Regions from separate parts of the Homo sapiens genome. Here regions 2, 3, 4 and 5 are each linked to region 1. Evidence: fine-mapped expression QTL. A gene starts in region 1. Each other region holds a variant in brackets. All regions are shown on one strand. Distances are from middle to middle.

The links. PIP is the estimated chance that this variant, and not a neighbour inherited with it, causes the effect. A credible set is the group of variants that fine-mapping cannot tell apart.
Region 2: its variant is the best candidate, but not a certain one, in a credible set for the expression of AKR1B1 in whole blood (INTERVAL, PIP 0.67).
Region 3: its variant is the best candidate, but not a certain one, in a credible set for the expression of AKR1B1 in whole blood (INTERVAL, PIP 0.88).
Region 4: its variant is the best candidate, but not a certain one, in a credible set for the expression of AKR1B1 in whole blood (TOPMed, PIP 0.66).
Region 5: its variant is the best candidate, but not a certain one, in a credible set for the expression of AKR1B1 in whole blood (TOPMed, PIP 0.85).

What each region holds. Positions count from the first base shown.
Region 1 is chr7:134,456,088-134,461,192 of GRCh38, reverse strand. It overlaps AKR1B1 (aldo-keto reductase family 1 member B), which reads left to right and starts at 2,093. Exons shown (of 10, transcript NM_001628.4): 1 at 2,093-2,196. The coding sequence starts at 2,131. RefSeq lists a silencer at 2,294-2,483.
Region 2 is chr7:134,599,261-134,604,365 of GRCh38, reverse strand. No RefSeq gene overlaps it. Among named protein-coding and RNA genes, the nearest start is that of BPGM, 45 kb to the left of the region's middle. The variant G/T (reference allele first, on the strand shown) is at 2,312.
Region 3 is chr7:134,581,787-134,586,891 of GRCh38, reverse strand. No RefSeq gene overlaps it. Among named protein-coding and RNA genes, the nearest start is that of AKR1B15, 35 kb to the right of the region's middle. The variant G/A (reference allele first, on the strand shown) is at 2,767.
Region 4 is chr7:134,588,982-134,594,086 of GRCh38, reverse strand. No RefSeq gene overlaps it. Among named protein-coding and RNA genes, the nearest start is that of AKR1B15, 42 kb to the right of the region's middle. The variant G/A (reference allele first, on the strand shown) is at 2,456.
Region 5 is chr7:134,507,075-134,512,179 of GRCh38, reverse strand. No RefSeq gene overlaps it. Among named protein-coding and RNA genes, the nearest start is that of AKR1B10, 18 kb to the left of the region's middle. The variant T/C (reference allele first, on the strand shown) is at 3,110.

The DNA.
Region 1 (5,105 bases):
GTGTGTGTGTGTGTGTGTGTGTGTGTGTGTGTGTGTGTGTGTGTGTGTGTTTTCCTTTTAAATTATTTCCTTAGGAAAAATTCCCATGATGGGAGATTACTGGTTCAGAGCATGTTAAGATTCCAATTACTAGAGTGTTTCTCAGGAGGATTCCATTGAAGGTTTTTTTCCCTTTTTCAAACAAAATTTTGATATGTATACTTATCAAAAGATGGGAGATCAAAAATCTTGAGATCAAAAATTTTGGTATGTGTACATTTTACAAAGATTACAGAGGCAATGGGGGATGTTAGGGGGCTATCACAATAGCATGTCCCAACTAGAGTGCTATTGTTGCTATAGAAATTCCACTGATACAACTTTTCATGTCTGCATGGCCCAGCCAAAATATTCTGGGTTTATTTATTTATTTTACAGACAGGGTCTTGCTATGTTGTCCAGGCTGGTCTCTAACTCCTGGGCTCAAGCAGTCATCCCACCTCAGCCTCCTGAGAAGCTGAGACTACAGGTATCACTCCAGCTTTAGACACAGTTATAACTTCATGCAATCAAGCTGTATACTCAATTATTATCAAACCAACAACAAAGCCTCTGATATTGAGTCCATGTCCCTAACAGACGACCCTTCTGTGTGTACCAACCTGGCCACTCAAGGTGTATCATTTTCACAAGAGATTAGCTCTTTGGATTTGGACCCAGGAGGTTCAATTGGCAGAGCAACCTCCAAGTCAAGAGGACTCTCATGGAGGAAGGAACTTGCTGTTTTACACAAAGCAAGTTCCCAGCTTTAGGCTCAAGTTCAAATTCTATTACTTGGGGACAAATGAATTTGCCCAATAGCAACAATTTTTACAAAAGTTACATGGAAAAATATCTGGGCTAGTCTGTTCTGTATAAATTTTTCCAGGAGGGAGCACTTTTAAAGAAAGCACCAAATGGAAAATCACCGGCATGGAGTTTAGAGAGACCTGGTGCTTGAGTCACTACCAGGCAGATGGAGTTCCCAATCTTGCATAATTAGGGGAAAGATCGGAGGGTGATGGAGCAGAAAGAGCAGTTGGGGTGAGGTAGAGTATCATGAAGAGAGGTTGTTGGAAAGAAACCAAAATTGTCTTCAAGGATCTTCAAGTGACTTTTCTTAGGCTATCTTGGAAAAATGTGTGTTTCTACCTGCCAATTAGGGTGATCAATTTACTATTTTGTACCTTCTAATTTGAAATACTGGAAGCTACAATATTAGAGTCAACTTTTTCTTCTGTGGTTTTCTGTCTGTTCACTTTTCTTCCTCTAGAGAGTTTTGATAAGTTACTGTACTGGAACTTACTGCTTTGATAGAGTCTCACTTTCCAAAGACTGATGAAATTTGTCTTACTGATTCTGAATGGACAGCCTTACTTTCCAAATTCTTCTGAGAGTTCTGGATCAAGCCCATCAAGGCTTTCTAACCTCAAGAACATCAAAGGATGCTGGCTTTTGGTGGAAGGCTTGCTGAACCACACCTAGTATGCACAGACACAGCTAACACCTAGAGTGGGGTGCAAAGAGAGATCTAGAAGGCTACAAAAAGTCTGGGCAAACCCATATTTTGTGAAGGTGCTTTGCAAAAGGATTGCAAGCCATTTTTCTGGCATGCACCTTTGTCTAAGAACAAAGTGCGGTAAACTATATGTGTAGTCAGTATGATTCACATAGATTAAGGACAAGGTATTCGTCAGATTCCCAAAGAGCATCAAACTGGGGTTGGACAACAAAGGCATTCTTCTGGGCTCTTAATGAAACCAAAACTTATTTCTAGTCTATGTATTTATGGGATGCCTGTTATTTTCGCTAAAGCATTCGCTTTCCCACCAGATACAGCAGCTGAGGAACTCCTTTCTGCCACGCGGGGCGCGGGCGAGCGTTGGGGGCGGAAAGAATCCGCTGCCACTAGGACCAGGCGGAAGAAGCATCCCCGCCGACCCTTGGGGAAGGCCGCCGCGGCACCCCCAGCGCAACCAATCAGAAGGCTCCTTCGCGCAGCGGCGCGCCAACCGCAGGCGCCCTTTCTGCCGACCTCACGGGCTATTTAAAGGTACGCGCCGCGGCCAAGGCCGCACCGTACTGGGCGGGGGTCTGGGGAGCGCAGCAGCCATGGCAAGCCGTCTCCTGCTCAACAACGGCGCCAAGATGCCCATCCTGGGGTTGGGTACCTGGAAGGTAGGTGCTCGTGGGGGCGCGGGCCCGGGGCTCGCCTCACACTCTCCGCGCGGCCTGTATTGGCGAGGGACCCCGAGTGACCCTGAGCAGCTCGCCCCGCGGACGCCCGGCGTGCTGGGAGCCACGCGCGGGCTTGCAGGGTCCCCAGCGGGCTGGGGTCGGCCTTGCAGAGACCGGGGGCCTTGGCTCCCCGGGTTGGCCCTGGGCGTCAGGGCAGCATCCTGCGAGTGGGGTTTGGGAGCAGCTCACGGGAGCCCCCGCCCTACCGCGGGCAACCCTTGATGGGCGGCCCACCAGTCCGCATTTTGGGTCCTAGCGGGCGCCCCAAGCGGCACAACGCGAGAGGGAGGCGGGGAAAGTGGGCTTCACAGACCGGTGGACCTCGGGCGCAGACAGGGACGTGGAGCCGTCGGCAAGGTGTGGGAGCGCAGACCCAGCCTCCTTTCCCTCGAGGCACCTGTAGCCCGGTTGCCTCACTTGTAAATAGTTGGTCTCAATCGTTTCGATTCTTGCCCTCCCTGAGGAATAAGCATCTCAAGCCGGTAGAGGGCAGAGAATTAGGTGGCGCGAGTTTGCCCGGACCCAGCTGTTAACAAGGCGCAGTGCGGAGCTCCTCGGCCAGGCGCCGCCTCGGGGTGCCCTGGGTCTGGAACTCGGGAGAAAAATCTGGGCACCCCGTAGCTAGTTGATAATTCAGGAGGCGCCAAGGTTAGCATTTTCCCTGTAAAACCTCAACACCACACAGCGTCCCCGAGAAGTGCCTAGCCGGATGAGAATGACAATAGGACATGAAACATCATAGGATATGAAAAATGATAATATGATATGAAAAACCAAAAATAATAGCCTGAGCCTGATTATCTGAAAATTGAGCAACAAAGGTGGTGGTATGGGAGCTGAGGCAAAACCTAGAATTTTTAACCTTCTAAGTATTGCATATTATATTCCACAGCCATAACCTGGGTTTCTCAGTTTCTGTTTTTGTTGTTTGCTTGTTTGTTTGTGACAGGGTCTCGTTGCCCAAGCTGGGGTGCAGTGGCACAATCATGGTTCATTGCAGCCTGGAACTCCTGGGCTCAAGTGATCCTCCTGCCTCAGCACTGCGGGTAGCTGGGACTACAGGCGCTCACCACCACACCTGGCTAATCTTTTTTCTTCCCCGCAGAGACAGTCTCCGCTTGTTGCTTAGGGTGATCTCCAATTCCTGGGCTCAAAGCGCTCCTCCCACCTCGCCTCCCAAAGCTACAGGTGTGAACCATCTGGCAGGCCCACGTCCCAGGTTTTTCTCTTAAAATTTGAATATGGGCCTGGGCGTTGGATATTTACACACAGACAAGGGAAGAAAACAACAGAAAGAACTGAGTGAACTGTGAGATGTTTGAAATAGGACAGAAGAGTTTACATGTACCCTAAAACCTGCTGTTGAAAATTAGTAAATATAAGGTAAGAAAAAGGTCATTTGCATCAGGGAGAGTGTTTCTTGGCCAGAATGATCAGGGTACGTGATTTGTTTCCTCCAAAAACTCCAGTGGTGTCTCTAAGGTTGTAATTGAATTACAACCATGACACCAAGCTAATTTCCATCTGTTGCATGTTATGCTCTTGGAATGGATGCAGAAGGATGCTTTCTTGGCAATAGCAAATACTTTCTAAGCATGATGCAACGCACAGATATATACATGTAACTGGAATAAAAATTACTTAACAGTACTTAACCTATGTAGGCTGCATTTCAATATTTTTTTCTATTCCATTTTTCCAAAAATTATTGTCATACCTCCAGAAGCTAGTTTTGTGACCCATCATTTGAAAATCACTACTCTAGGGTAAATAAGGAGTAAAAGTTTATTTTTTTTTTTTTGAGACAGGGGCTCAGTGTCACCCAGGCTGGAGTGCAGTGGCATGATCATGATTCACTGTAGCCTTAACCTCTTGGGCTCAAGTGGTCCTCATACCTCAGCCTCCCAAGTAGCTGGGACCACAGGTGTGTGCCACCACACTCGGGTAGTTTGTTTTTAATTTTTTGTAGAGACAGGTTTCCCTATGTTGTCCAGGCTGAGGAGTAAAAGTTTATGAAAGAGGGTTTCAGATTATTCACTTGAGCACTCAATGCCCCAAAAAGCTATGTATTTGTTTAAGATAACATCACATCATAACATCTGTACATTTAGGTTATGCATTCCAGTAGACAGAGTTCATTGAGAAATTGGATAATGTCTGCTTCATTCATTACTATTTCTAGCACTTCTCACAGTGCCTGGCAAATATAGGAGTAGGTATCCAAAAGTTATGTGTTGAATTCATATGAAGAAGTAAAACGACTTTAGAGATAGCTGTATGGTGAAAACGCCCACTTGTATTCCTGTGGATGAGGAGATCAGGTTGGTGTAGAATTGTACGGTGGGGGCAGCGGGGAATGGTGGGTCAAAGTAATGGTATAAGGATGGACTTGGAATCAACTTCCTTTTTTTTTTTAATGACTTAAAACCTTTCCCTGGGGCCGGGCGCGGTGGCTCACACCTGTAACCCCAGCACTTTGGGAGGCAGAGGCGGGCAGATCATGAGGTCAGAAGATAGAGACCGTCCTGGCTAACATGGTGAAACCCCGTCTCTACTAAAAATACAAAAAATTAGCCCGGCATCGTGGCACGCACCTGTAGTCCCAGCTACTTGGGAGGCTGAGGCAGGAAAATCGCTTGAACCCCAGATGTGGAGGTTGCAGTGAGCCGAGGTCCCGCCACTGCACTCCAGCCTGGGCGATGGAGCAAGACTCCATCTAAAAAAACAACCAAACAAAAAAACCTTTCCCTTGTATGTGTGTATGTATTCTTTCACAGATGCTCGACAGAAGATGTGATCCTTTGCCTGTCTTTGTGACAGCTGGAGGAGGCCCTGCAGGCAGGTGCAGT
Region 2 (5,105 bases), 140 kb before region 1:
TAATTGAGGTTATGTAATTTAATTGATGTATCAATATTAGTAAACTAATAAATCAATTTTTAATAAATTGAATTTAAAAATGAATTTAATTTGTGGAATTTGAACTGTATCCATTAATTGGGGGTATTCATCAAAAACAATTGGGTGTAACATAGGAATATAAGACCTATATCAAATATTTGGAGGGCTTTCATTAGGAATAGGAAAAGACCCGTTCCGTGCCGTCACTGCATGCAGAATTGAGATCTACAAATGGAGGATAAAGGAAGATGGCATTTTAGCTGCACGTTAAGAAAGACTTGCTAAACACAAGATTTTCTCCTAAATATTCGTTGGGAAGTGAATTCCTGATCCCTAGAGGTGTTTAAACATTAGCCAGACTGTGTGTAATATTGAAGATCTAGAAGACCTCCAGTGCCTCTGGGCCCCACCAGCCTCGAGTCTATGATTCTGTAACTAGGCAACTTAACTTCAAAATGCATTTTAAACGTTTTTTTTCCTTTCTCTTGGATTTCAACATATAACCTTGAAGCAAACTGCAGAAGCCTTTTTCCTTAGCCTTAAAATGGACTCCACGTCCCTCTTTCTCACCGAATATAGTCCCTTCACATTTATCTAACTGCATGCTAGTGTCTAAAGGCACATAATTATTATGGGGCTAATTTTTAGGCAGACCAAGTCTGGAGACCCCGCTACAGAATTCCAGAGATGACTTCAAGGTGACTAGTCAACAACCCAGCCATTGTTAAGATGATGCCAGCCTGAGATCCAGGTGGCCTGGGACCCAAGACAGCCACCAGAGCAAGACACACAGGCATTGGAATCAGCACAATTCCTGCATGCCTTCCTTACCAAGTTTTCCCATTTTGAACTCTTGCTTTCCCCGCTAGATACAAAGCAGTTCCTTTGGATAGGAGGAATCCAGCAGCTTCCCCTTTACTAGTGTTGGTTAATAAAGTCACTTTCTTTCTACCAGACCTCGCTCTTGTTAATTAGACTCCGCAAGCAGCGAACATGCGTTTGGTTCCACTTCTAGACTGGCAGGCACATGCTAAACCTCCTAAATCAGCCACATCCCTTCTCCTGCAGCCTGAAGCCTACGGCTGCATGCTAGCCTTGGAGTTACCTTTTCTACCAGCCCTAGCTCACATCTTGCACAGAAAAAGGGCAGGGCTCCAGTGAGACAAAGCTGTTAGTTTTTCAGGTGGTAGAGCTTGCCGCTATGAGTGTGCTGCTTTGTACCTAGTGAATGCATAATGGGTGAAATTGCAGCTGATAATATGACGATGAAGCAAGTGTTTAAAGTCCTTGTCTGGATGCTTGGTTTCCGGCTTGTGGGTAGAACGGAACTAAGTTACAAAACATTAGGACACGCCAATTGCAGCAGGATTTTCTGCTTTAGAATATTAACTGTTTGTTTATAAATAAATCAAGTGAAGCTAAACGGACAGAAGCTGCCCCTTTAGTGTTGGAATCAGAGGAGACAAAAGGAGCCGAAAGTTGTATTTTCCCAAGATCACTTGTTCCCTCTGAGAGCTGAAGCAGAAATTAAGGAAGCAGATTCAAGAGTTCCAGTGCCTTTAGGGCTAGCTCCAAATTGTTGCCAAGAAAAAGTATAGGGTTCAGAAAAAGCCTCTTCTGACGTTAAATTATCTGAGAGGCAAGCAGAAGAGGGGGAACTTTATTTTTGGCAGATGTGGGAATATTAATACTTTAGGAAGGGTTGTAGTTTCTAACTTTACCAATTTACTAATTTTCTGATTGTGTACTTTTAAGAAAATACTTGGCATGTGGTTTCTTCTGAAGAGTATACATGGGAGATGTGGGACTTTTTTAAAATAACTTTTTTGGGACTTTTTTTTTTTTTTTTTTTTTTTTTACAATAACTAGCACCAGGAAAAGAGGTTCTTAAGAGAAAGAATGAGCTGGGGACATGTGGCTGTTTCTGATTCTCACAAGCCTGCTCTCCTCCAAGAGTCCACAGCCCTGGCCTTGGTGGGAGAGAGTGACAACGATGTATCTTGTACAAACAAAAGTCAAAATCCCAAATCTAAAGACAGGGTGAGCAAGGTGCATCTGCAAAGTCATGGTGCCGAGAACTCAGCCAGCAAACTTAACATTTGATCAGACCATATCTGGACGTGGAAATCCAAACTGCAGAGAACCAACCTGTGGAAGTCATTACAGTTTATTATAAAAAAAAAGTAGAACCTTAAATGTGTGTCTCAGGTGATGATTAGAGTTTGATAATGTTACTAAGACAATTAAAAAACCTAAGCTTGGGTGATTTTTGTTTTTACAGAAACCAAAA[G/T]GTAGACCCTGTATATTGATTAAGCGTTGAATTCCAGGAGAAACATGAATGATCAGTAAATATTCACTGCTTATGAAATGTTTTTAAAAACTGTTATAACCCCTGTTATTGCCACATAAAGGAAGGTCATTGTCTTTCTGTAACCCTGGGACCATGACAAAACTCTTGACATTTCTGTATACTTTTAAAAACATTTATCACCTTCTTAATATACTGTAGAAACAAATACTGTTTTTCTGTCCTTCTGAAATTCTGCTTTGCCATTTTGATACACTGATTGTCTGAGAACTACTCAGACAAGTTTGTTTTTGTTTCTGTTTTGAGACAGGGTCTTGCTCTGTGGCTCAGGCCGGAGTGCATGGTTATGCCTCACTGCAATCTCCACCTCCCGGGCTCAAGAGACCCTCCCACCTCAGCCCCCTGGGGTAGCCGGGATTACAGGCTGACACCACCATGCCCAGCTCATTTTTGTCTTTTTTGTAGATACAGGGTTTTGCCATGTTGCCCAGGCTGCTCTTAAACTCCTGGGCTCAAGAGATCCTCCCTCCTTGGCCTCCCAAAGTGCTAAGATTATAGGCGTGAGCCACCATGGCCAGCAAAACCAGTTTTATTACTCACATTGATTTAGTGACGTTTCTTCCCAGTTAACAATTTTTCCATTTTTGCAAACTGATTTGGTAAAGGGGACAGACCCTTATGTTTGGTGTTTTTTTTAATGTTCAACATAAAATAAAATGGATTTTAAAAAGAATATGTAAGATTCTTCCCCAAATCATTTCTTTTCAATTCTGCTTTGTATCTAGTTTGTCTTTTTTATTTTCTTTATTAACTAACTAATGATTCTTTTTTTCTCTTTTGGATAATTTCAGAAAAAAATTTCAGGAAAAATTGCAGAAATCGTACAAAGAACTTTTTTTCCTTAGTAATTTGAGAGTATTTTACCAACATGATACCCCATCACCCTTAAATGCATTAGTGTGCAATTCTTACGAAGACTTACACCTCTTACTATATTTAAACCATTGAAATGAGGAAATTAATTCTAATACATTACTATCATTTTGTTTCAGACATCATTAATTTTTTTTCAGTTGCCCCAGTAATATCCATTTTAGCCAAATGATCCATTTTAAAATTACATATTTCATTTATCATGTCTTTTTAATATTATTTGATTTGGAACCATTTCTCAGTTTTTATGATTTCATAATTTTGACTATTTTAAACACTACAGACCACTAATTTTGTGGGATTTATCTCATTGTGGGTTTGTCTGATGTTTCCTAGTGTTTAGATTCAAATTATACGTCTTTAGCAGAGATATCACAGATTTGAAGCCGGATTCTTCACACTGCATACTATCAAGTGGTACACAATTTCAATTTGTCCTATTACTAGTAATATTAAATTGATCACTTGATTAAGATTGTATGGTAGGCAGAATTTTAAGATGGCCCTATGACCTTGGCTCATGATATTACTCCCATGATGGTGTTATATTGCAAATGGACAATTACCGAAGTAGGCCTAATCTAAATAAATCCAGCCTTTAAAAGCAGAGAGTTTTTGAGAGCTGATGGCAGAAGTCAAAAATATTCGAGATGTGGCAGAGATTCACCTCCAGAGAAGCTCTACCTTGTTGAGATGGAGAAGACCCACAGCACAGAACTGTGTGATTGGCCTCCAGGAATGGAACACAACCACCATCTGACAGCCAGCAAGGAAATAGAGACTTTGGTCTAATTGTAGCAGGGAACTGAATTCTGGGAGAGGGATTCTTCCCCAAAGCCTCCAGAGAAGAGCCCAGCCTGGCCAACACCTTGATTGCAGCCTTGGGAGACCCTAGGCAAAGAACTCAGGGGGACTGCCTGGACTTCTAACTTACAGAACTATAAGACCATAAATGGGTTGTTTCAAGCTGTTATGTTTGTGGTAATTTGTCATGCAGCAATAGAAAACTAATACAAGTGAGATCTGCTAGTCTCTCAGTTGTAAAGTACCTGCTTTTAGTAATTAATAAGCATTTTGTAAAGAGGTACTTTGAGATGAGACAGATATCCTATTCCTCATCAAATGTTTACCCACTGGTTTCAGCATCCATTGATGTTTCTTGAATGTATATTAATTATTTATATGGGGGAGGCAGAGCAAGATGGCTGAATAGAAGCCTACACCATTCGTCCCCACAGCAGGAACACCACGTTTTAACAACTAACTGCATGCAAAAATACTTTCACAAGACAAGTACCCTAAAACTTAAAGTATAATAATAATAATAATAAAAATACTCTCACAAGAACCAAAAATCAGTGAGCAATCACATTACCTCATTTGAAATTCGTATCACTGAAAGAGACAGTGACGTGAGCAGGAAAGACAGACTTGAAGCATTGATGCCACCCCTCCCCCACCCCACGGCAGCAGCTGTGTACAAAGAATCTGGTCTCTTGGGAGAGAGAGAGTGCAGCAATTGTGAGGCTTTGCATTGAACTCAGAGTGGCCCTCTCATAGTGGAAATTAGATCCAGGCTGTATTCAGCTGATGTCTGCCCACAGACGGAGCATTTGGATTGGCCCTAGCCAAAGCGAAGTCACCCAGCCCAGCAATCAGAGCTTGAGTTCCAGCAAGCCTCGCCACTGTGGGCTGGAGTGCTCTGGGACCCTAAGTGAACTTGTGGGGCAGTCTGGGCCACAAGGACTGCAATTCTTAGGCAAATCCTAGTGCTGAGCTGGGTGCAGATCCAGTGGACTAGGGGGGCATGTGACCTACTGAGACTCAAAACCATACATTACAT
Region 3 (5,105 bases), 130 kb before region 1:
CAAGGGTGGTGGGGAATGGGTCACACATAACTGCCCATGTCAAGAGCTGTATGCCTAAATTGGGAGGGACACCAGGGACAAGACTCCCTGGATTCATAGCCTAGATGCCTAAGGTTGCAGCATAGAACTTCCTTAGATCCCTTTGGAGATACAACTTGCTCTAATACTTGGGAGAGGAAGTGAAAGTCTGAAGCATTAGTACCTAGGAGGCAGGGATCGGAGGAAGTAGATTCAGAGGTAAGGAGAATTTTGGGGCTACGCTTTCAAGAAAGTCATGGTTGGGACCCAGGAGGTATGGGTCAGAAGGAGAGGTAGGGGCACACACATGGATGACTTTTGAGTAGAGACTTTTGACTGTGCCATGATCTTGACTGGCCAATGCCGGGAGTTCAGGACGACAGCTTTCTGCCTCTAGTCGACCCTTGGCTTCCCCAGGAAAATTGTGAAAGTGGAAGCTGGTTCCAGGCAGACCAATGCTCCCAACCCAGAAGGGTTGGGAGCTGTTAGCAAGCCTTTTCCCAGGAAGCCTCACACCTGAGTCTTTAGTCCAGCAGCCATGCTAATCATTTTTAACCGGCCGACAGGTGCCAGGTATTTTCCTCCAATTCTAAGGAAGGATAGGACAGAACAGCGAGCGAAAGTGGCCCAATATTATTCACTGCTTTAGAGAATCCCTGTACAGGCCACCAAATGTTACGGGTGGGTCTTTGTTCTTAGAACTCCCAAGATGGTGGCAGCCACTCCCAAGATGGTGGCAGCCACTCTCAAGATGGCAGCAAGCCTTTTGTTCTCTGACCTGGGATTCTTGGTCTCACAGATTCCAAGAGTGGAACCTTTGGCCATGTGGTGAGTGTTATAGCTCTATTAGAAGCCGTGGGTCATGGAAGAGAGTCATGGAACCCAGCGACTGGTGTTCAGCTCGATTAGGACAAACCTGGGCACTTAGCCACGCAGGAACAATGGTGAGCTCTAGCCCAAATGGGAGTGGCAATGGGCGCCTCACTGGATCAGAAATGCAGCAGACACCCTGCCTGATCCAGAGAGGTGGAAGTCAATGGAGGGTCTGCGACAGTGGCGTTCAGCAGTGGACGGTGAGCGAAAGCTCAGCTTGAGCCAGAACAAACATGGACCAGAAGAGTGTGCAGTTGCAAGATTTAATAGAGTGAAAACAGAGCTCCCATACAATGGGAGGGGACCCAAAGTGGGTTGCCACTCCCTGCTCGAATGCCTGGGTTTATACCCCGATCATTGTCCCTCCCACTGTGGTCTCAGGTGATATATGATTTGACTATTTCTTTACCTCCTGCTTTTAGCCTAATTTGTATTTTAGTGAGCCCTCTTTACTACCTGATTTGTTGGGTGTGAGCTGAGTTACAAGCCCAGTGTTTAAAGGTGGGTGCAATCACCTTCCCCAGCTAGGCTTAGGAATTCTTAGTCAGCCTAGGAAACCCAGCTAGTCCTGTCTCTCACCAGGAAAACTAATACAGACACTAATGGAGAAATAAAAACTAGAATAATGAGAATATTGCTATTTATAGGAAGAAAGCAAGGTTGTGAATTCTGCTTATCAGTAAATATAGAGGAACCATTATCTTTTTTTAGTCTTCACGATTATCCCAAGGTTGAAGCACTAGGGTATAGTTTTTTTCCAATCAAGACAGCCTTTAACTATACCCCAGGAGTCTGACATATAGGCTGCCTTTACCCCTGCTTTTCACTTGAGCTGTCAGCATCTCTTGGTTCATGGATAGCAGTACCATGGCTGTTCTCTGCTCACTGCTTCTCAGGACTTCTGAATGCTGTGTCCTAGTAGAAAGCAGATCCTGGGACTATATGCAAGCCATATTCAACTCACACTTAGGAAGGAATTGCTAATAAGAGCAATGCACCATTTTCTACCATGGAGTAGAACAAACAGAATTGAAAGGAGAGAATATTAGTGGTGCCTCAATTCCTATTTTACCTCTCACTATTAGACTTCAATGAGAGCAGAAGTAAAACTTCAATCATGAATTAAAGATTGACATTCTCCACATATCATCCCTGCCTCCAAAATGATTATCTCAGTTCCAGTTCAAGGATGTTATACAGTCTTTGCAATTTATGACTAGCCGTAGAGTTCATGAAATTACTTCAGATTATGTGAGTAGGCATTATGGGTTGTAACAATTAAGAAATCTAGCTTCAGTTTTTTTTTAAATCTGAAATTGGAGTTAAAAAGTAAAATTGGAGTAAAAACACTTCCCATCCATCTATCCTTCCAACTATCCTTCCATCCATCCATCCATCCATCCATCCATCCATCCTTCCTTCCCTGCTTCCATCCATTTATCCATGCCTCCCTCCCTCCATCTATCCATCCTTCCAACCACCCTTCTATCCATCCATCATTTCATCCATCTATCCCCAATCCCTCTATCCTTCTACCCATCCTTCCTTCCATTCATCCTTCCATCCATCCTTCCTTTCATCCATCCTTCCATCCGTCCTTCATGTTTCCATCCATCCATCTATGCCACCCTCCCTCCATCCATCCATTCATCCATCCATTGTTCCATCCATTCCATCTGTCCATTTATTCAACAGATATTATTGAGAATCCCTTCTCCCATAGAGCTTACATTCCAGTGGGTAGAAACAGGGTAAGCAAGCAAACAGTAAATATTTAAAATACATAACATATTGATAAATGCTAAGGAGAAGAAGAAAACACAGAAGGGCAAGAGGAAGTATCAGAGGAGATGGGTTAATTTTAAATAGGGTGAT[G/A]AAGAAAGGCCTCCCTGAGAAGATGATAAATCAGCAAAGAAATTAAAAATACAAGTCAGAGAATTATTCTAATATCAGAGGGCAGAAGATCCCAGGCAATGAGAATAGCAAGGGCAAAAGCCCTGGGGCACAAGCACCTCTCTTGTGTAATTTTTTTAGTAACGTTCAAGGTCCTCGTGGTCTCCACCAACTCTCCCTTACTTATCTGGGGGTTGATATTTTTCAACCAACAAAAGTGCTGGAAGGCAACACTATAAGATTTTAAGGGTGCAAAACTTTCATGAAATTTCTGGGAAAATGCTGACAACAAATGAGGAAAAACAAATGAACTAGGTAGAGTTTTAAATTAAATGTAATCAAATTCCACTGCATTGTACATTCAGAATATGTATTTTCTAAAATTGAAAGGCTTGTTAAATGAGAATAGTTTCAAGTAAAAGTGTCTCTTCCATTTGGTTTTCCCAGTGGATGTATAAAATAACTAATTGAGCTAAATCTCTGCTATTTTCTAAATCCTTAATGCCTCTCTTGATTGTAAAAGTGCATTTCGTATTGTGGAAATTTTGAAAATTATGTAAAAGAATAACAAAAAAAACCTGTTGCCATACAATATAGAAAAAAACCCTGTTAATATTCATATCTTTCTAGATATATTTTCCTTTTATTTCTAAGTTTTGTTGGTTTGATAGTGAAAAAAACTTATTTTAATTTGCATTCTTATTACTAGTCAGTACAATTTTTCATGTCATGTACTGGTCAATTTTTATGTACCAACTTTCTTTTTGGCATCTTAGAATTTTCTTATTGATATGAATAAGCTCTTTTGATTATATGAAAATTGCCAAATGGTTTTGTTCAAGTTTGTTTATCTCCTATTAGTTTGTTTGTTTTTGTTTTTGTTTTGAGACGGAGTCCCACTCTGTCGCCCAGGCAGGAGTGCAATGGCACAATCCCGGCTCACTGCAACTTCTGCCTCCTGGGATAAAGCGATTTTCATGCCTCAGCCTCCTGAGGCATGTGCCACCACACCCAGCTAATTTTTGTATTTTTATTAGAGGCAGGGTTTCACCATGTTGGCCAGGCTGGTCTCAAACTCCTGACCTCAAGTGATCCACCCTCCTCGGCCTCCCAAAGTGCTGGGATTATAGATGTGAGCCACCACTGCTGGTTAATTTTTGCATATTTTTATGTTCAGAATTTACATGTCTATAGTCATGCACACGCATTAAAGCAAAAAAAAAAAAAGGTTATTTCCAACAATCTTCACTCTTCAGGGTCTTTCAAATTTTACTGAAAACTATTTTCTACAGAAGCCTCTCTCATCTGTACATTTTAAACTCTAATGTACAGTTAAATCTCACAATAATGCAATAAGTAGTTAAATCTCACAATAATGCAAATTTGTTAATTTAATATTTCATATAGCAACAGTCTCACTATGTTGCCCAGGCTGGTCTCGAATTCCTGGCCTCAAGCGATCCTCCTGCCTCGGCCTCCCAAAGTGCTGGGATTACAGGTGTGAACCACCAGGACTGGCTGGGTCCAAATTTGTAATCATGTAAAGTGCAGAGTTGTTGCAAGGTTGTTGAAATGACTGGAGCAGCCCTGGACAGTCAGGCATTAAGGGGTCTGGCTGGGAGATCCAAATCCCTTTAGGTCCCAGTTATAGTTTGGCATCATCTGCCCAGCATTTGCCAGATCTCACTTAAATACAAGAGGGCAAGTCTAGCCCTCTGAACTACCTGAGCCCGGCAGGATGGTCACAGTGATTCCAGAATCTCCATGCTAGTTGCAACCCATTTTTCCAGCCCTCTCTTAGACAATGAGTAGAGAGAATACTTGAAACACAAGAGCTTCACTCCTTGCCTCCCTACTTCCCAGGACAAGCTCCCTTCCTTTTCCACACTGACCTTACTTACCATCTTCCCCTCTGTGGTTATTCCCCTTCTTTTCTCTTCATAAGGCAAATTCCCTACATTATCATAAGAGTTATTTAACACACACCTGTAGTGTATATCTTAGATTCTCTCCCCTTAATGGCAGCTTTGGTTTAGTTGATGATGATGGTGGCTTTATTTCTGAACAATTGAGACAAAATTGTGAATAAATTTTAGGATGGATTCACTGTATTTCTTACAGTTGTGACATTGAGGACCCCAAGGCCTGCAAAGTTCTCATTACTTGAGATATAAATGCTGAAAATATAATCAGATAACTGGCTGTGTGAGGTGGCCCATGCTTGTGATTCCAGCACTTTGGAAGGCAGAGGTGGGAGGATCATTGAGACCAGGAGTTCGAGACCAGCCTGGACAACATAGCAACATTGCAAGATCCTGTCT
Region 4 (5,105 bases), 130 kb before region 1:
CTAAACTGCTTGAGTCCAAATTTCCATGTCAGAGAGCACAAATGCAAAGTCATGGTGCTGGGGAAGCTGCCAACACTCTCAGACACAACTGAGAATGCTTTGCTTTGGATAAAACAATGAGAATCCAGGGAGACTGGAGAATGAATATGTACAGAAACAAACAGGCTACTGAGAAGAGCAGTGGCTAAATATGAATCAGATTATATCAAGAGATGCTGTTTTAGCTACTTAGGTAATGAATGAATGAGAAAGTAAGTTCTGATAAAAAATGTTGGCTGAGTACAGTGGCTCACGCCTATAAGCCCAGCATTTTGGTAGGCTAAGGTGGGCAGATCACTGGAGGTCGGGAGTGGGGCACAAGTGCCACAAGCCCTGGGGCACAAGCACCAGCCTGGCCAACATGACAAAACCCAATCTCTACTAAAAATACAAAAATTAGCCGGGCATGGTGGCACACACCTGTAATCACAGCTACTCAGGAGGCTGAGGCAGGAGAATGGCTTAAACTCAGAAGGCTGAGGTTGCAGTGAGCCGAGATCATGCCACTGCACTCCAGCCTGGGCAATAGAATGAGATTTTGTCTCAACAAACAAACAAATAGACAAAAGTCCCTAAGTATATACTCATAAATATTGAGCATTCAACTACAAGCAGGACAATGTGTCAGACCCTATATTGGGTGGAATCATGTCCCCCCAAAGTCCATGTCCACTCAGAACCTCAGATTGTGACCTTATTTGAATATAGAGTCTTTGAAGATGGAGTTAGTTAAATTAAGATGAGGGCATTCTGAATTAAGGTGGATCATAAATCCAATGACTTGTGTCCTCATAAGAAGGTCATGTGAAGGCAGAGGCAGAAATCAGAGGGAGGCAGCTACAAGCCAAGGAACCCCAAGAATTGCCAGCAACCACCAGATGCTAGGAAGAGGCAAGAAGGATTCTTTCCTGGACACTTCGGAGGGAGTATAGCCCTGATGACACGTAAATTTTGGATTACTGGCCTCCAGAATTATGCAGGAATAAATTTCTGGTGTTTTAAGATTGTGGTAATTTGCTACAGCCACACTAGTGTTATGGGGTGGGTCTTTGTTCCTAGAGCTCCCAAGATGGTGGCAGCCACTCTCAAGATGGCAGCAAGCCTTTTGTTCTCTGACCTGGGGTTCTTGGTCTCACAGATTCCAAGGAATGGAACTTTGGGCCATGTGGTGAGTGTTATAGCTCTATTAGAAGCCGTGGGTCATGGAAGAGAACCATGGAACCCAGTGACTAGTATTAGGCTTGATTAGGATGAACCCAGACACTTAGCCACACAGGAACAATGGCAAGCCTCTAGCCCGAATGGGAGCGGCAATGGGTGCCTCACTGGATCAGAAATGCAGCAGACCCCCTGCTGGACCCAGAGAGGTGGAAGTCAATGGAGGGTCTGCGACAGTGGCATTCAGCAGTGGTGGACAGTGAGCAAAAGCTCAGCTTGAGCCAGAACAAACATGGACCAGAAGAGTGTGCAGTTGCAAGATTTAATAGAGTGAAAACAGAGCTCCCATACAATGGGAGGGGACCCAAAGCGGGTTGCCACTCCCTGCTCGAATGCCTGGGTTTATACCCCGATCATTGTCCCTCCCACTGTGGTCTCAGGTGATATATGATTTGACTATTTCTTTATCTCCTGCTTTTAGCCTAATTTGTATTTTAGTGAGCCCTTTTTACTACCTGATTTGTTGGGTGTGAGCTGAGTTACAAGCCCAGTGTTTAAAGGTGGGTGCAATCACCTTCCCCAGCTAGGCTTAGGAATTCTTAGTCGGCCTAGAAAATCCAGCTAGTCCTGTCTCTCAGTCCCCACTCTCAACAGGAAAACCCAAGTGCTGTTGGGGAGGTTGGCTGACGACCGCTCTAACTGCTTCCTGCTGAATTGGGGTGTAGCAGGGGTTGTGCAGTTGAGATTTCCTCGGGAGGGGTGCCTTCAATGTCATTAACATCGGAGCATGGGCTAGCTGGCCAGTCCAGGGGTCCACGGTAGATCTTAGTCATGCACTGCATCTGGTGCTCCATTTGAAGAACCATTTGTAGTTTTACAGCTTTGATTCTGGAAGAGACAAACTTAACAAGGAGGTTAAAGGTACAGGGATTGAAATGTAGGCCTGAAGTGCAGGGGCATATGGGTGTCGGCCGTGAAAGTGGGGTTTCCTTTAGAAAAACTCCTATACTATGGGGCATTGATATTTCCAGGAAGCCACATTCTCCGCAGAAGCTCTTGGTGAGGGGAGCTACTGGTAGTACAGTGGCATGGAGGAGGTGCAGTGAGAGTAAAAGGGGATAAGAGAACAGTAAAGAGAAAAATATGAAAAGGGAGGGCCATGGGGATCTATGATTCAGTTACTTTCCTCACAGTTGTCACTTGAAGAGCAGGCACAGATCCTCTAGAGGTTCACAGGAATAGCTAGTGTTGTCTCCTG[G/A]ATTTTCGGGTTCTTTTGACAGTATCCAGAGTTTGACTCAAGTGTGATGTATCCAAGACTCCACTCCAGCCACTTTAACCATGGTTGAGGTACATAAAATGAAGGGTAGTGTCCTTCCCAGGATGTGTCTAGGGACAGGGAATTAGCAGGAAGGGACTTGACTAATACCATGTCACCAGGGTAGAATAGTTCCTTTCCCTCCTCTCAGGGACAGGCTCCTTGTAATGTTTTAAGAACTTGTTGATATTTGTCTAAGGAGGTGATGCCTGCAACTAAGTTGGCCATCTCTCAGTCGAGCACAAGTTATTGGTTAGGAAGGTCCATACAGCATCTCATATGGCTAAGTCCCACTTTTTGGGGAGAGTTTAGGATTCTTAGTAAGGCTATAGGCAACAGAGCAGGCCATGCAAGGTGGGTTTCTTGGGTTAGCTTTTTTAGATGTTGTTTGAGTGTTTCGTTCATTTTCTTGACTTTTCCTGAGGATTGTGGCCTCCAGGGGCAGTGTAAGTGATATTGTATGCCTAACACCTGGGATAGTCCCTGGGTTACTGCAGCCTTGAAAGCAGGGCCATTGTCACTCTGTAAGCCTCGGGGAAGTCCAAATCTAGGAATTATTTCATGAATTAGTGCCTTTATTACCTCTTGGGACTTTTCTGTCCTACAAGGGAAGGCGTCCGCCCAACCAGTGAAAGAATCTACCCAGACTAGTAGATACTGAAATCTCTGAGATTTGGGCATGTGGGTAAAACTTAGTTGCCAGTCTTCTCCTGGGTAATGGCCTGTTCTTTGTTCTCCTGAAGGAGCTTGGCGATAAGGCAGGGGATTGTTTCTTTGGCACATTTCACAGGCCCTGACTATCTGCTTGATAGTTTTGAAAAGGCCTGGTCCAGTAAATAATGATATGGCCATCTGATGGGTGCTATCAATGCCTAAGTGAAAGGTCTGGTGAAGGGTTTTAAGTAATTCACATTGGTTAGCTGCAGGCAAAAGTATTTTTCCTTCTTCAGTGGCTAGACATCCTGAGGGGAGGAAACTATGTCCTTGTGAGGTTCCCCCTTCTATTTCTTCTGCTGAGTACTGGGGCTTGGTTTCCTGGAGGGGATTACCCCATACTAGGGGTCCTTCTGTAAGCATTTCTAATGGAGGGTCCCACCTTGCAGCTCTTTTGGCTTCAATATCCACTTGGCAGTTCCCTTCTATTTCCCTTTCCTTTCCTTTCTGATGACCCCAGCAGTGAAAGACTGCCACCTCTTTAGGTTTCTGTACAGCCAATAATAATCTCCTAATGGCTTCCTGATGTTTGATAGGTGTTCCCTTGGAAGTTAGGAATTCCCTTTCTCTCCATATTACTGCGTGGGCATGGAGGACTAGGTAAGCATACTCAGAGTCTGTATATATGTTCACCCTTTTTTCTTCTCCTAATTCTAGTGTATAATGGCCCCTACTTTTGCTAGGATGTCTCTCCCTAACAAAGGAATGGGGCTTTCAGGCATAATTAGAAAGCCATGTGAAAAGAGTAAAGTTCCCCAGTCACAGCCTAGTGGCTGGGAGAAGTATCTAGTGACTGCCTGTCCTAGGACCCCTCGGACAGTGACAGAACTGGAGGACAGTTGTCCAGGACAGAAGAGTAAGACTGAGAAGGCTGTGCCAGTGTCCAGGGGACAGTTAACCTCCTGGCCTTCAATGATCAAGCATACCCGGGTCTCTATGAGAGTGATGTCATGGGCTGGCACTTGCCCCAGCCACCCTCAGTCGTCCTGCTGCTGGATCATCTGGTTAGTGGCTTCTGATTCAGAGGATCTTCATCCCCTGGGGCAGTGAGCCTTCCAGTGACTCCCTAGATATAAGGGGCATGGACAAGGGGGTGGCTTATTTCTATTCAGACATGGACAAGGGGATGGCTTATTTCTATTCAGACAATCTTATTTAAAGTGTAATTGTAAGCCTCACTGGAAGCAAGCCCCATTAAGCATTCAATTTGCCCAGCCTTTCCCTGTTCCAGAGCCTCCAAGGTCTGCTTGCCTGAGGGCCATGACTAAAGTGGTGGCCTTTTTCTTATCCTGTTTGTCCAGTTCTGCCTGCTCCTCCTGATCTCTATTATAAAAAACCGAGGTTGCCAAGTTCAATAGGGTTTCTTAGTTTTGCTCTGGGCCTAAGGCAGACTTTTGAAGTCTTTTCTAATGTCTGCAGCTGACTGAGTGATAAACTTATCCTTTAAGATTAGTTGGCCTTCAATAGAGTCAGGTGACAGAGAGGTATGCTTCCTCAGTGCCTCCGATAGTCTCTCCAGAAAGGCAGTAGGATTTTCTTCCTTTTCCTGTGTTATAGTGGACCTCATTGAATAATTCACAGGCCTCTTCCTAGTTTTCCTTAATCCTTCTAGCACGCAAGTTAGCAAATGTCTGTGGCAACATTCTCCATGTTCTTATTCTGCATCCCAATGAGGGTCTACACTGGGAACTGCCTGGTGGCCTGTGGGGAATTGTTCTCTTTCCTCTGTTGTCATCCTATCATTGACCTGACTGAGAAACCAGAGATTGCCAAACTCTTGCGCTGCAGTTATGGCAGCACTTCTCTCATTTGGGGTTAGTGTCTGATCTAGCAGTAACATTATATCTCTCCATGTGAGATCAAAGAATTGTCCTAACCC
Region 5 (5,105 bases), 51 kb before region 1:
TAGAAGAGTGACATTAGCAAGATGGCTGACTAGAGATGCCTGACCCTTATCTTCCCTACAAGAAAGGACCAAGGCAATAAATATACAGCTGAAATTTGACTGGAGTGCCAAAAGGAGAGCGATGGAGTGAAGCAGGGGAGTGGAGATGCTTCTGAGGTGGTTGGAGGCTCAGGAGGACAGGATGGAGGCACATGGCCTCCGCAGCCCCATCTCACCCACCTGGATCGGACTGGCCCAGAGATAAGAGGACTACTTCTTAGGGGAAAAAGGTAAACAGAAGAACCCCCTGTCACCCCTTGCCACTGCAAACACCTCCAGTCCTTACTATGGGAGAATCCCACATCCTGGTAAGCGCTGAGTCCAGTTTGGAAAGCTGCTGAGAATTCACTCAGCTGTGTCACTCCAGGTGAGGTGCATAAGGTGTGCACTCCGCCTTACGCCACTGAGCCATGGAGCCATCCTGAGAACAGACCTACTGCCGGAGTGTGCCCTGCTCTGGGGCCATAGTCATTGTGCCTCTCTAGCACTGGGGCTCTATCTTCATTCCACCAAACCCACATGGTACCCAACTGTACAGAGGCTGGTCCCAGGATTGGCTATGACTCTTGTCCTGCACAACAGTGAAACAAACCCATGCTATCTCCAATACAGCTGGAAGAATAACCTAGCAGTCTCACCCAGGATGAACCTGCTCTTGTGCCAGCCAAATAACTATGTGTTCTCCCCCAAGGAGAACAGGTCCTCAACCCACCAAGCACCTGACATGCCCCTAGGCCAGTGGAGCAGTTACGTGCAGATGTCCAGGGTCTGAAAAACAGGGCTTCAACACTACCCCCTCCAAGAACATAACCCTGGCTTGCACAAAGTCCCCACACCCACAATCAGGGCTTCAGAAACTTGGGAGGCTAACCGAGAAGCTGTGTGCCTATGTCCTGGGTCTGAAAGAAAGCTTTATGTGTCACCTGTGATAAACACACACCAAGGTCAGCAAAGAAGCTGTGCTCTCATGTTCCAAGGCTGAGAAGCCAGGCTCTTCCTTGGTGCTCAAAGCCCCTGAGGGATAGTTGTCTTTCTGCAGAATATTTGAGGGATATTTGAGGGACAAATATTTGAAGGATATTTGTCTTTCTGCAGAATAAGACATTTTGAGTAGTAGTCTCAGAGTTGCTTTGGTAAGAGAAGAGAAGGCTTCCCAGGCCCCGCAGATGGGTTTTTGAAGGTAGCTCTGGGCCCAGGGCCACATGAGACGCCCTTGGGGAAGAACAGCCATCACTGTGGGAGCTTGTGATAATGATGTAGGAATCTACGGCACTGACCTGAAAAACTGCACAGCCTTTATAAAGGCCACAGAGAACGGAATGAGCACCCATAGGAATGAGACATTCTGTGCTCTCAGGAAACAGATAACAGAGGCCAAGGCCTGCTGACGCCTCCCTAGGCTTTTTTTCCCTCATTCCCTCTGGCCCTGCCTTTATTCTCTACCTTACTTTCCCACTCCCTTTTTTACAGGTGAAAGAAAACAGAGCATAGGACAGGAAGAAATTCACTGTGTGAATTTCTCGTGAATTTCCTTAGGGACACACAAGCAGGAGGAGAAGGGGAGGAACTGATACCAGGGCCTGCCCTAGATCTAGCCCTGGAGGTATCTCTAAAATAAGTACATTCTCCAGCTCCTCTGTCTCTCTGTTGCTCTCACTCTAGCCCTCTCCCTTTTTCTCTGCATCCTTGTTCACGCATACTAGGCACTCTCTTGTTTCCTCTGTGCTAAGAAGCAATTATAATATAAACTCATGGCCAGGTGCGGTGGCTCACGCCTATAATCCCAGCACTTTGGGAGGCCGAGGCAGGTGGATCACCTCGGGTCAGGAGGTAGAGACCAGCCTGGCCAACATGGGGAAATGCCGTCTCTACTAAAAAATTAGCTGGGCATGGTAGCACATGCCTGTAATCCCAGCTACTCAGGAGGCTGTGGCAGGAGAATCACTTGAACCCCGGAGGCGGAGGTTGCAGGGAGCCGAGATTGCACCACTGCACTCCAACCTGGGTGACAGAGCGAGGCTCCATCTCCAATATATATATATACGCTCATTATATTCACAGGGCCTGCCTCAACCTACAGCTTCCCCCAGTCCTTCCTCGCTCCAGTACCCAACTTGCTGTTTCAGGTCTCCCAAGCCCAGACCCAGTCCCCATGAGGGGGGTTCTCTGCTCCCTTCTTTAATTAAGCCCATTGAAAACTTATTCATTTGGAGCTAAATGATCCATGAGTCCCTGATGAGCCAGACCCAACAGCTACCTCCCTAGGACATTTGCATTTCAAAGCTTGGAACTTGAACTGAAATCTTGAGAGCGAATTGGTAGAGAAGGTGAATTAATTGGTAGAGAGGGGGAAGAGGTTCTGTTATTCCAATTACAGAGACGTCTGCATTCTGAGGTAGAGTATATGGGGAGATGATACTAAGTATGTCCCATCCCAAGGGTATTTTCCTCTTCCTGTCATTTTCTTTTGAATTTTCCCACCTGAAAAAGTGCTGGACCTAGGATAGACAATCAATATTTCAAATAAAAAATAAGTTGAAATGTATAGTGTCATAAAACTATAGCTGTGATGGTGATGGTACGTTCTTGGGTATATATAGAAATAGAAAACAACTGATGCTATTGACATTGAATTATTGATAGGGCATTAGGGATGGTTGGTTACTCATCACTAGTACACATTGCCATCAGCATCATAACTATGATCATTGAATTTCAGAGTCTAACAATCTTTAGTCAGTGTGAGCACATTTTTATAAATAAGTTGAGCTTAATTTCCTAGAGAAAATTAGAGAAAAGTTTAGAGAGCTATTTTTTGGGCTTATGAGGTTCAGTATTGTATCTCATAAAATATGGAAGGCCTCACATACCCATAGTGAACAGAAGCTGTGGCCTTTGTTTCTGTGACTCACACTTTCAACTTTGCCTTGGTATTGTGCTGTTCCTACTAAGACTATAAGTTCTTCTTGCACAAGGACAGTCCCTAATGCTTCCTTGTTTCCCCCAGAGGGCCAGGGACATGTAATTATATAATAAGTGCAGTTCCCGGTGGAATGAATGAACCCAAAAT[T/C]GTCTGCTTCCTATGTTCTCCAGGAAGGGTCACTTTGGCCTGCTAAGGATAGAAAATGCCTAAAAGCAAGAGGTGTGAGGAAGAGGAGGCAGCCATTGTTATTGTCCACCACACGTCACATGTGTGCTCACACCATTGCTGTTGGTTTGAGGTTAGAGACTGCCTGGGCCATGAACAGGGTCAGTCCTACCATTGGTGAGGTCTCTGTAACTGTTTTTGCCTTCTCTGCCTGACAAGGTCCTCTCATCTATCCAGGTCTACCTTCCCCTGTGAAGTCCTTGATGTGGTTGGGCTGTATCCCCACCCAAAATCTCATCTTGAATTGTAATCCCCATAATCCCCACATGTCAAGGGCAGGACCAAGTGGAGGTAATAGGATCATGGGGGGTGGTTCCCCCATGCTGCTCTCTTGATCATGAGTGAGTTCTCAGGAGAACTAATGGTTTTATAAGCATCTGGCACTTTCCCTGCTTGCACTCACTCCTTCCTGCTGCCCTGTGAAGAAGGTGCTTGCTTCTCCTTTGCTTTCAATCTTCCATCATGATTGTAAGTTTCCTGAGGCCTCCCCAGCAATGCAGAACTGTGAGTCAATTAAACCTCTTTCCTTTATAAATTACCCAGTCTCAAGTATTTCTTCATAGCAGTGTGAGAACAGACTAATACAGTCCTTCTCAACCCCTGCAGGTAGAATCCGGGAGTTAATCACTAAATCCTTTGTGCTTTCTTGGCATTTTACTCAGACCACCTGTACCATTATACATTATATAAGTGTTTATCCTCTTCCTTGAGTCTGGAAGCTTCCTAAGAGCAGGAACCAGGCACAGTTACATTCTCTCACCAGTTTTTGTGAAGATAGTATTATTTGATGAGTAAAGAATTAATTAGTAAATGAACAGATACAGTTCCTGCGGCAAGAATGGGTGAAAATGAGAGAGACCACAGGTACTTTTCCAGATGACCTTTAAAGGCCTTACAGAAGGAAACCAGGAAGATGTTGGCAAGCCATATAAGTGGTCATTCTTCAAAAGCAAAAATACTTGAGGTAGATACACCTTGTCCTTTTTAATAAAACCTGTGCTTCTTGATGGACACAGCCTGTGTCTAAATTTCAGTATGGCATCTTGATGGCTCTCCTAATCACTTCTGACTTGTATAGCATTCATCTTATGGGTCAGACCTAGCACAGCATGTTCAAAGACTTGTTCACAGGTGAGCATAGCACATGATATTTAAGAACATCTTCCTCTTCCTCTGCCAGTGCCTGTCTCCAAGTGATGCACCAGAGTGGTTCATCAGTTCTTCAAAATGAAGACAGTGTGATCCTTTGGGCAGGAGCTGACTTGGAGCCAAACCTCCTTGGATGGCCCCAAGACTTATTGAAGTAGAACCTTGTCACTGGGGATGTCTTTGTTACTGAAAATAAATGCCCTCCTAGGAGGAACATTTACACGCAGCCAGGCCCAATTCTTCCCATTGCTGGAACACCAGATGCTGAGCAGGACTATGACAGAAGTCTCAGGATGCCCCTAGAAATGCTCGGCTGCAACTTCCAGAGGGAAGATGGATTGGCCAGGCTCAGGATGGCCCAGGGAAACACTGTTCCAAAAATTGCTGTGATTTATTCACTGACAATTGTTTAGGTATAGAATAAAGGTTAAAAGCTTGGGACAAGCCAGGGGTGATAAGGAACATGAATCTGTTTTCGTCTGTGAGGGCTGCTATAATAAAATACTTCAGACTAGATAATTTATAAGGAACAGAAATGTATTCTTACAATTCTGGAGGCTGGAAAGTCCAAGATCAAGACCCCTGCAGATTCAGCATCTAGTGAGGGCTTGCTTTCCATTTCAAAGATGGTGCCTTCTTGCTGTGTCTTCAGATGGCAGAAAGGGGCAAGGGAGCTTGCTTGAACCTCTTTTAAAAGGGCACTAATCCCATTCATGAAGGTGGAGTCCTCATAACTTAATCACTTCTCAAAAGGCTCCACCTCTTAATA